Linked DNA regions of Homo sapiens. The protein of the gene in region 2 interacts with the protein of the main gene of each other region in a pairwise test. Each region holds a gene or a part of one and is shown on either strand. Other genes may lie near its edges. The genes, in order: TMEM132D and ENOPH1.

Region 1 (3,823 bases), on a different chromosome or scaffold from region 2:
GCCCTCTAGAAATAGATGAGATGAGGTGACCACGACACCAATGTGTCAGGGCCGGGCGTACAAAGCAATGCTCCAAGTCATCTATGAAACACTGGACCCTGAACCTAAGAAGCACGGGAAGGGCAGCACCTCGCTTCCATGCCAGCCACATCCTGTGGACACTACGCCGTCACCAACGAACAAAATCCATTGTTCATTTTTCCGCACTGAACGTATCTCTCCCTCAGGGGGAGAAAAATCCAAAATGTTATTTTCACAAGTTGCCTTACATTCTGTAAGAAAAATGCAGGCAGAGCAATTGCATAATCCAAAGAACCAATTTAAGGAGTTTTAGAAATGTAAACTATTGGCTGGGAACACTGACTTTCTAGGCAAAGCTCCACAAGTTATGCTGAAGCCCTTCTCGTCAGTCACCATGTAATTATCTTTGATTACTCGGACACTCATGGCTCCACCTTTCTCAAAGGCCCACGCAAACACACATCTGGAAGCCTGATGCCTTCCCGAGTCAGGACCCTTCTTGGCAGTCATCCGCCAGCAGCTGAGAGAGCCAAGAGCTCGGAGGCAGGGGTCCTGCTCCCGGCTTTGTGAGACGATGAGCAGGTCACTGACCCTCGTTGTTTCCCATGGACCCATTGGTAGCATGAGGGGGCTGACTGCAGCACTGTAGCCTCAGCCCAGCTGTGATAACACAGGGTGTCAGGCTGCATCCAGTTTAACTTCTAGACAAGAAGTTCAACGCATGTATTCAACCCGAGTTTACAGAAAGCCCTGGATGAAAAAATCTCTCCAATCATCGGCATGACCAAACTCAGAGCAGGCTGAGCTTCCATATAAACAACTAAGGCTTGTCTTGGACTGAACCATTTGAGACTGCTTATAAGTGAGCAGTCTGCATCCACCCAAATGACAATTTCCTAGGGTTCAACGTCATAAATATGGATTGTTTTCAAAAATCAAAATATCATAGATATAAAAAGGGACTCCATGCCTTAAAAAGATTACATGTTTTAACTTTATAGAAATAACTCCTGATTGATATTATCTCTAAACTTGTATCTTCACATGTGAGTTATAGTAAAAACAAAGAAGAGACAAAGAATATTTCAGCCCCTCTCTGGGCACCCTCTCCCCATTTGCCTAGCCACAGTTCTGTGACCTCTCTGGCTGCATTATCAAAGTCACCTTGCTGGGATCCTTTCCTTGACTGTATGATTCTGGGTTATGGTCTCCATCTGGGTTTTTCTGTAGCATCCCCAGCTTCCTGCATCAAAACACGTTATGCTTTGCTGTGATTCTCTATGCACTCCAGTGTGTGATATGCCAGGGAGCAGAAATGACACGCAAGGCTTTTTTCTCTGCTGTATTCACAGTCTTTAAGAGAGTGCCTGGTAAATGTCAGGTACTCAATAAATATTTGATAAACACGTGAATGAATAAATCAACATGTGGATTATGCTTTTTATGTCACAAAGAGCAGATTCTGTTTTTACACTAGGATGTTATTCACTGTCCTCTTGGCTTCCATCACTGTAATCGGAATCCTGGATCCTTTTATCCCATTAAGAGCTCCGTGTAATCCTGGTGATACGGGACTAAGGAAGATGGGCCTCTCCATGTAATGAGACTCCTATAAGACCTACATCAGTTGATACAGTGTCCCCTATTGTTAAAAACACATCTTGGCACCACTCAGAACAAGTACCTTGAGCTGCCTCAGCACTCTTTTGCCATTCGTGCTAGAAACAGCCAAAGCCAGACAACCAAATTACAGATGCTTAAATGTTAATGCCAGACACCAAGGCTCCGTGAACTTCCCTGTTGAACATCTGACCCCGACTACTTGAGGACATGAAACCTAACTGTGCAGCTAATTACACCTTCCAAGGGCAATGACATCGGGTCCTATGATTTTATTCAGGAAAGCAATAAGGCAATCGGGGTCACTGTGAACATCATTTGAAGGGAAGTAACTTCTTAGCTTTATTCCACAAATGGTCTATTAGTCATTTTGCCTGGTATCTGACCTAAATGTTTATTGCTTAAAATTGCTCCATTTTGACCTAAAGCTAGTGTCACTTCCTTTCTTTTTTTTTTTTAACTAATACTACAAAAATAATGCCAATTATGGTCCACGATGCACAGAATGAACGAAGTAAAACTCATTATCCTCTCATCCTTACAGGAATGGTTACTGTCACTAAAGGACATGATTTTTATTTAACATAAAAATTAGCAAAGTGTTAAATTACAAAGAAGCTATACACAGTAAATCTCAGCTAATAATTCGCTAAGGACAAAAATTACTTTTTGATTGGGTTCCGTGGCTGTAATTCTTACTTGAAGGAGAGTGACATGTTCGCATCTTGAAGCAACTCAGTGGTCTGGGAGAGATTTTGTATTAATTTTAACATTTTTGAAAGGATCATTTTTCCCTGAATAATACTTTTTTAAAAAATATGGGAGGAAGGCAATTTGAGCACAAGACTCTCAGTTTTCCCCTATGTGGACTCAAAAGCAATAACTAATCGAATACGGTAATAGGCAAAAAAAAAAAAAATCTACATCCATGCTGAAAATTAGGTACAATCTGCATGCCATAGACTGCAAGAATTACTGGGACTCACAAGGGACTCAAATACCTCACATAGAAAACAGAATGATTAGGGCAGCCAGATAAAACACAAACACCTAATTATGTTTTGATTTCCAATAAACAGAAATATTCCATAGGGCATGCTTATAATTAACAATAAATATTTTTAAATGGTGTTTTTCTGAAATTCAAATGTAGCTAGACATCTTGTGTTTTATTTCCCAAATCTGGCAATCCTCAGCATGGTATTGTCATAGAAAGAAAATAGTTGTCCGCTGAGTAGATAGCTGTAAGATATCTGATATCTAGGCAGCTGACAAATCTACCCTGATATCTGCAAGAGCAAAGGCCATGGGCCATGTGGGTGCTCCCGCACCTGACAATATTCCCAATGCTGGGAGGCAACCAGCTTTGCCATCAGCTGAATCAGAGACCCAAGCATAGGGGGCGCCGCGCTGCACAGAAAGCCCTAAAACATCAAGGCGTCTTGCTGATGCTGTTCTTCCCTAACAGAGACAGTGATGGGGGCAGGAGGTTTGACATAGCCACACTGCTCCTGGAATGAGTCCAAACCTAAAATCACTTACAGGAAACCAGTGCCCATGTGGCCCCTGCACCCAACTCACAGAAGGCACCTTGGAGCAAGGGATCTCCCCTGCTGGGCATGTCAACACCCCAGAGCATCCTCACCGTCCCCCCAGGGATGCCGGGTCATATGGTAACATGCAACGCCAATGTAAACAAGGCTGCCCTCGGTGAAGGATATGTAAATAAACAAAAACAGAAGGAGAACAGGACCTACCAATAAAAGCTGCAGAGTAACGAAGGAAATTCAGAAAGACATTCAAGAAGTAGAGGAATAACATACCTTTGAAGAGTATTTACCATAGAATATTGAAGTACCTTTTATACAAAATGACTTCGGAGCTCACAATCATCAAGAAAAGCAGAGCCTTTGTTGTTTTGTAAGGAAATAAGACTGAGATGGAAGAAGATCCTGAAGTATTAAAAGTAAGGAATTTAAAATGGTTTCAGATGCAATAACACAGATTTGAAAAATGCAGAAAATTGAATTTATCATATGAGAATGGGAGCTTTTGAAGCTTTCCCTACAGCTAAATAGAAAAGGCGAAGCAATGGAAATGATCAGTAAGAGGCTGTAACCATGTGAGATGCACATTAGATGTTCAATATTCAGATGATGGAGCTCCTAATGAAGACACCAGG
Region 2 (3,823 bases):
CTCAGTGTACATGGGTAGTAAAATGCCTCTCCACCTCAATCCTTTGCTGGCTAGATGCTGTGTGCCTTCCTTTTTATTCAATTCCTTTCTAATCTAGATCCTAGTGCCTAATCTTCTCATTTCTTCATTTTCCAACTACTCCTTAAATAACATTAAGATATACCCCTTTCTGCCATCTGCCTATGAGCTTTCCAAAAAAGGTATTAAGTTCATCCTTTTATTACTATTTGTGGTTTTATCATCATTTACAAATTATTCCCATTTCTAAGATGTACCTAAACTCATTTCCTTTCTTTTTTATTCATATATTTTCATAGACCCTAGATTTCTTAATTGGCTACTAGATCAAAATTATCAACATAAAATCTTTTATATCCCCTGTCCTCTCATAGTTCTAAGACTTCTTTTTCCTTATTCAAAGCATTTCTAAAATTGCTCCTCCAGGATTCGTGAGTTTTTCTTGATTAGTTAGGAGAGTAACTCCCTCCTTCAAGCATTACCTTAGAGACCTCAAAGTTAAGATTCTCAAAAATATAAGGAACTCCACTCATATCCTGAATGCTTACTATCCAAATGGAATAGTAACCTTATATGTATACATAACTCAAATAATAACCATGAATTGCCACCGGCACTCCATTAAAACACACACATGATACACGATTAAGATAAGAGCTAAATATTCTTGTTTTTCAGTTTCTCTTTTGCTATGGCGGCATGTGGATAGAGTTCAGGAACCTATATAAAACTGAGTGAAGAAAAAATGCTTTTATTAATCACAACATGAAATTAACATGACATCGTATTAGAATTAAACCAGGATAAATACTGCTGTTATAAAATTTACATTTCTCACATCCATTCCAGAGGAAAATCTTACATATTAGGGCTCATCTTAATGTTATGGACTGATTTCAGTAAAACTTTTTAAATAGTAAATAGCAATTAACGTATTCTCAAACTGTGCTAAGTAGTTAGAAAGGCAACTATAAAATCTATAATGATAACACGTGGCAGGATTAGAACTGTTCTGTTAAACATTAAGAACCACATCTCTGTTTTAGATGTTACCTCAGTGCACCTTTTTCACTGGTAAGGCAACTGCTTGCTGTGGGTGCCACAATGATTACCAAGTTTCTTCTTAAGTAAAAGACACTTGTTTGATCAAGACTCAAGTGAGTTTTCTTTCCCAATTTTGTTCTTTTGAAGCAGAAGGAAATACCTTGGTCTTTGATATATATAAGGAGGCAAATATGAAATACAGCTGTTATAATCTTCTAAATCACAAGGGCAATGAATTATTCATTTTCTTTGAAAATATTCAGTCTTTGAAATATTTCATTTTTAAAATAACAAGGCTTCTGAATAATTTCTCAAAACTAGCTTTCCATTTTAGTACACGATTTGATAAACATAGCACATTAGATAGGTATTTAGCAATTTCTTCTACCAACTACACTTTGCCCTCACTAAGGGTTAGAGTATGATTTGAAACAATTTCTACATATAAAGCATCTTTAAATAAGTTTTGTGTTCACTGAACTGAGACTTCTTTCACTTATGTACCTATGGAAGTTAATCTGAGCATACACATATATACATACTTGCATACATATGTGTACATATGTTTTTTAAGTAAGTTACTTTTACCATTAGAATAAACCTAGACACTACAGGGACAACTCTGGGGAACAGGGCGGTCTGCCTTAACAACCCTTCTCTAGGTTGAGGAAGGCAGGTATAGTTCACTGAAGGATGTGATGAGGCTGTAGTAAGTCTTCTCATCATCTGTTAATCCTGCGTTGCCTGGTCTCACCACCACAGCTACGTGCACATCTGCTTCCTCAGCAGCACTGGCCTCTGTGAAAAATCAAAGGATGTGTGTGTGTCAGAAACACCAAAAAATGATGTCTGAGATTTGCAGCAAAGTCAGCAGGGGGATGTGGGGATGGAAGAAATGAATTTGGCCCTGATTTGATGACTGTTGAAGCTAAAAGATGGGCACCCTGGGGTTGACTATATTATTATCTCTTTTATGTATGTTTTAATTTTTCCATGATAAAATTTTAAAAAATACGTAACTGTACTTGACAGAAGAGAATGGCAGTGTATCCTACACTTCTGAGCTTTATTAAGTACTTATGAATGCAGAAGGATGGAGCCATGTTCTGTCCTACACCTTTCCTCCACTTCCTCCCATCAGCCCATACCGAGAACTGAGCTGTTTCCCAAAGGACAAGCTGTTGGTAACACGAATTAAAATGATATGGGGCTGGGCACGGTGGACCCAGGAGTTCACTTGAACGCCAGACTTGAGTCCAAGAGTTCGAGACCAGCCTGGGCAACATGGTGAAACTCTATCTCTACAAAACAATACAAAAATTAGCCGGGCGTGGTGGCGTGTGCCTGTAGTCCCAGCTACTCAAGAGTGCTGAGGTGGGAGGATTGCTTAAGCCCAGGAGGTCAAGGCTGCAGCAAGCCGAGATCGCACTACTGCACTCCAGCCTGGGTGACAGAGTGAGACCCTGTATCAAAAAAATAAAAACACAAAGAAGATAATGGGACAAATGGAATCCTATGGTTTAATCAGCCCAAGATATCTGCTCTTACCTCCAGACCCTAAACATGTCATACTCCCAGCCTAGAATGGAGCAAGTTAGAGTGGGAAATGGGATACAGGCCTGTGATAAGAGAGATGGCGCTTACTAGGACAGATAGAACAAAACTGGTGAGAAATCTGGAATATATATATATAAATCCCGTGGAATTTAGATTTGGTGTAAGAGTAATCACCATTAGTTTCTCAGCCTTTGGAGAAGAGTCACAGCACCTGAACAGATTAACTGAAGGGCAGTCGTGCTGAGAGAGTTAAGTTCCCAGGAGACACACTGGGGCTGAGCTGTTTCTTCCACCCACCCACCTCCTCAAGTGCCTGCTTTCTGTTCTGCCTGTGAAAGGGCCTGTCACTTTCCCAGAGCAAACAGTACTCAAGACTCCCCTCTCTGTGTGGGAATGTCTTCTTCAGACCACCTCTGCAGATGCCATTGGAGAAAGGCAGCTATCTTCCACTCACCCCTACTTCCTAGCCTGACTGCCCTGAGCAAAGTTTTCATCGTGACTGGCAACCCGGGAATATGACCAAGTTAAGCCATCACAATCCACATGGGACTTGACACTACAAGTGGCCGTTCCATATTCAGGCTTTTTATCTAATTCACTGCAGGGCAAGTTTTATCCCTAAGCATCTATTTGCTCTACTGTTGTAATGCTGAGACACTTTTTCATACTTGGGTATTATTTGGGATTTTATTTTTTATTTTATTGTGTTTTTTCAGAAGGGTCTCTCTCTGTCGCTCAGGCTGGAGTGCAGTGGCATGATCTCGGCTCATCCCAACCTCCGCCTCCCAGGCTCAAGCAATTCTCCTGCCTCAGCCCCCAGCCGAGTAGCCAGGATTACAGGCGTGTACCACTACTGCCTGGCTAATATTTGTATTTTAGTAGACACAAGGTTTCACCATGTTGGCCAGGCTGGTCTTGAATTCCTGACCTCAAATGATCCACCCACCTTGGCCTCCCAAAGTGCTAGGATTATAGGTGTGAGTTACCGCGCCCAGCCATTATTTGGGATATTAACTTAGTTTTTCATTCTGCCTCAGCAGTGGAAGTCTGGGCATGTGGTACCAAAACAGGACCAGAGAGAAAAGAGCAAGCAGGCAGACAGCTCCCTGCCTCATCCCAGCTGCCGATGACCCAAGTTCTGGCCTAAGTGTGTATGGGGCCAGCAGAAGATGAAGGGCAGGAATAAAACCTCCTTACAGAGAAT

What was found.
Region 1: the proteins of ENOPH1 (region 2) and TMEM132D interact in a two-hybrid assay, tested with the Homo sapiens proteins (one large-scale study listed by BioGRID).

The regions. Positions count from the first base shown.
Region 1 is NC_000012.12:129,701,379-129,705,201, forward strand, and holds part of TMEM132D (transmembrane protein 132D precursor), read right to left. Parts: intron 1-3,823. UniProt on the Homo sapiens protein: Regulate neuronals morphology via inhibition of the WAVE regulatory complex (WCR), a complex that controls F-actin cytoskeletal dynamics.
Region 2 is NC_000004.12:82,458,018-82,461,840, reverse strand, and holds the end of ENOPH1 (enolase-phosphatase E1), read right to left. Parts: intron 1,861-3,823; coding exon 1,721-1,860; 3' UTR 664-1,720; downstream 1-663. UniProt on the Homo sapiens protein: Bifunctional enzyme that catalyzes the enolization of 2,3-diketo-5-methylthiopentyl-1-phosphate (DK-MTP-1-P) into the intermediate 2-hydroxy-3-keto-5-methylthiopentenyl-1-phosphate (HK-MTPenyl-1-P), which is then dephosphorylated to form the acireductone 1,2-dihydroxy-3-keto-5-methylthiopentene (DHK-MTPene).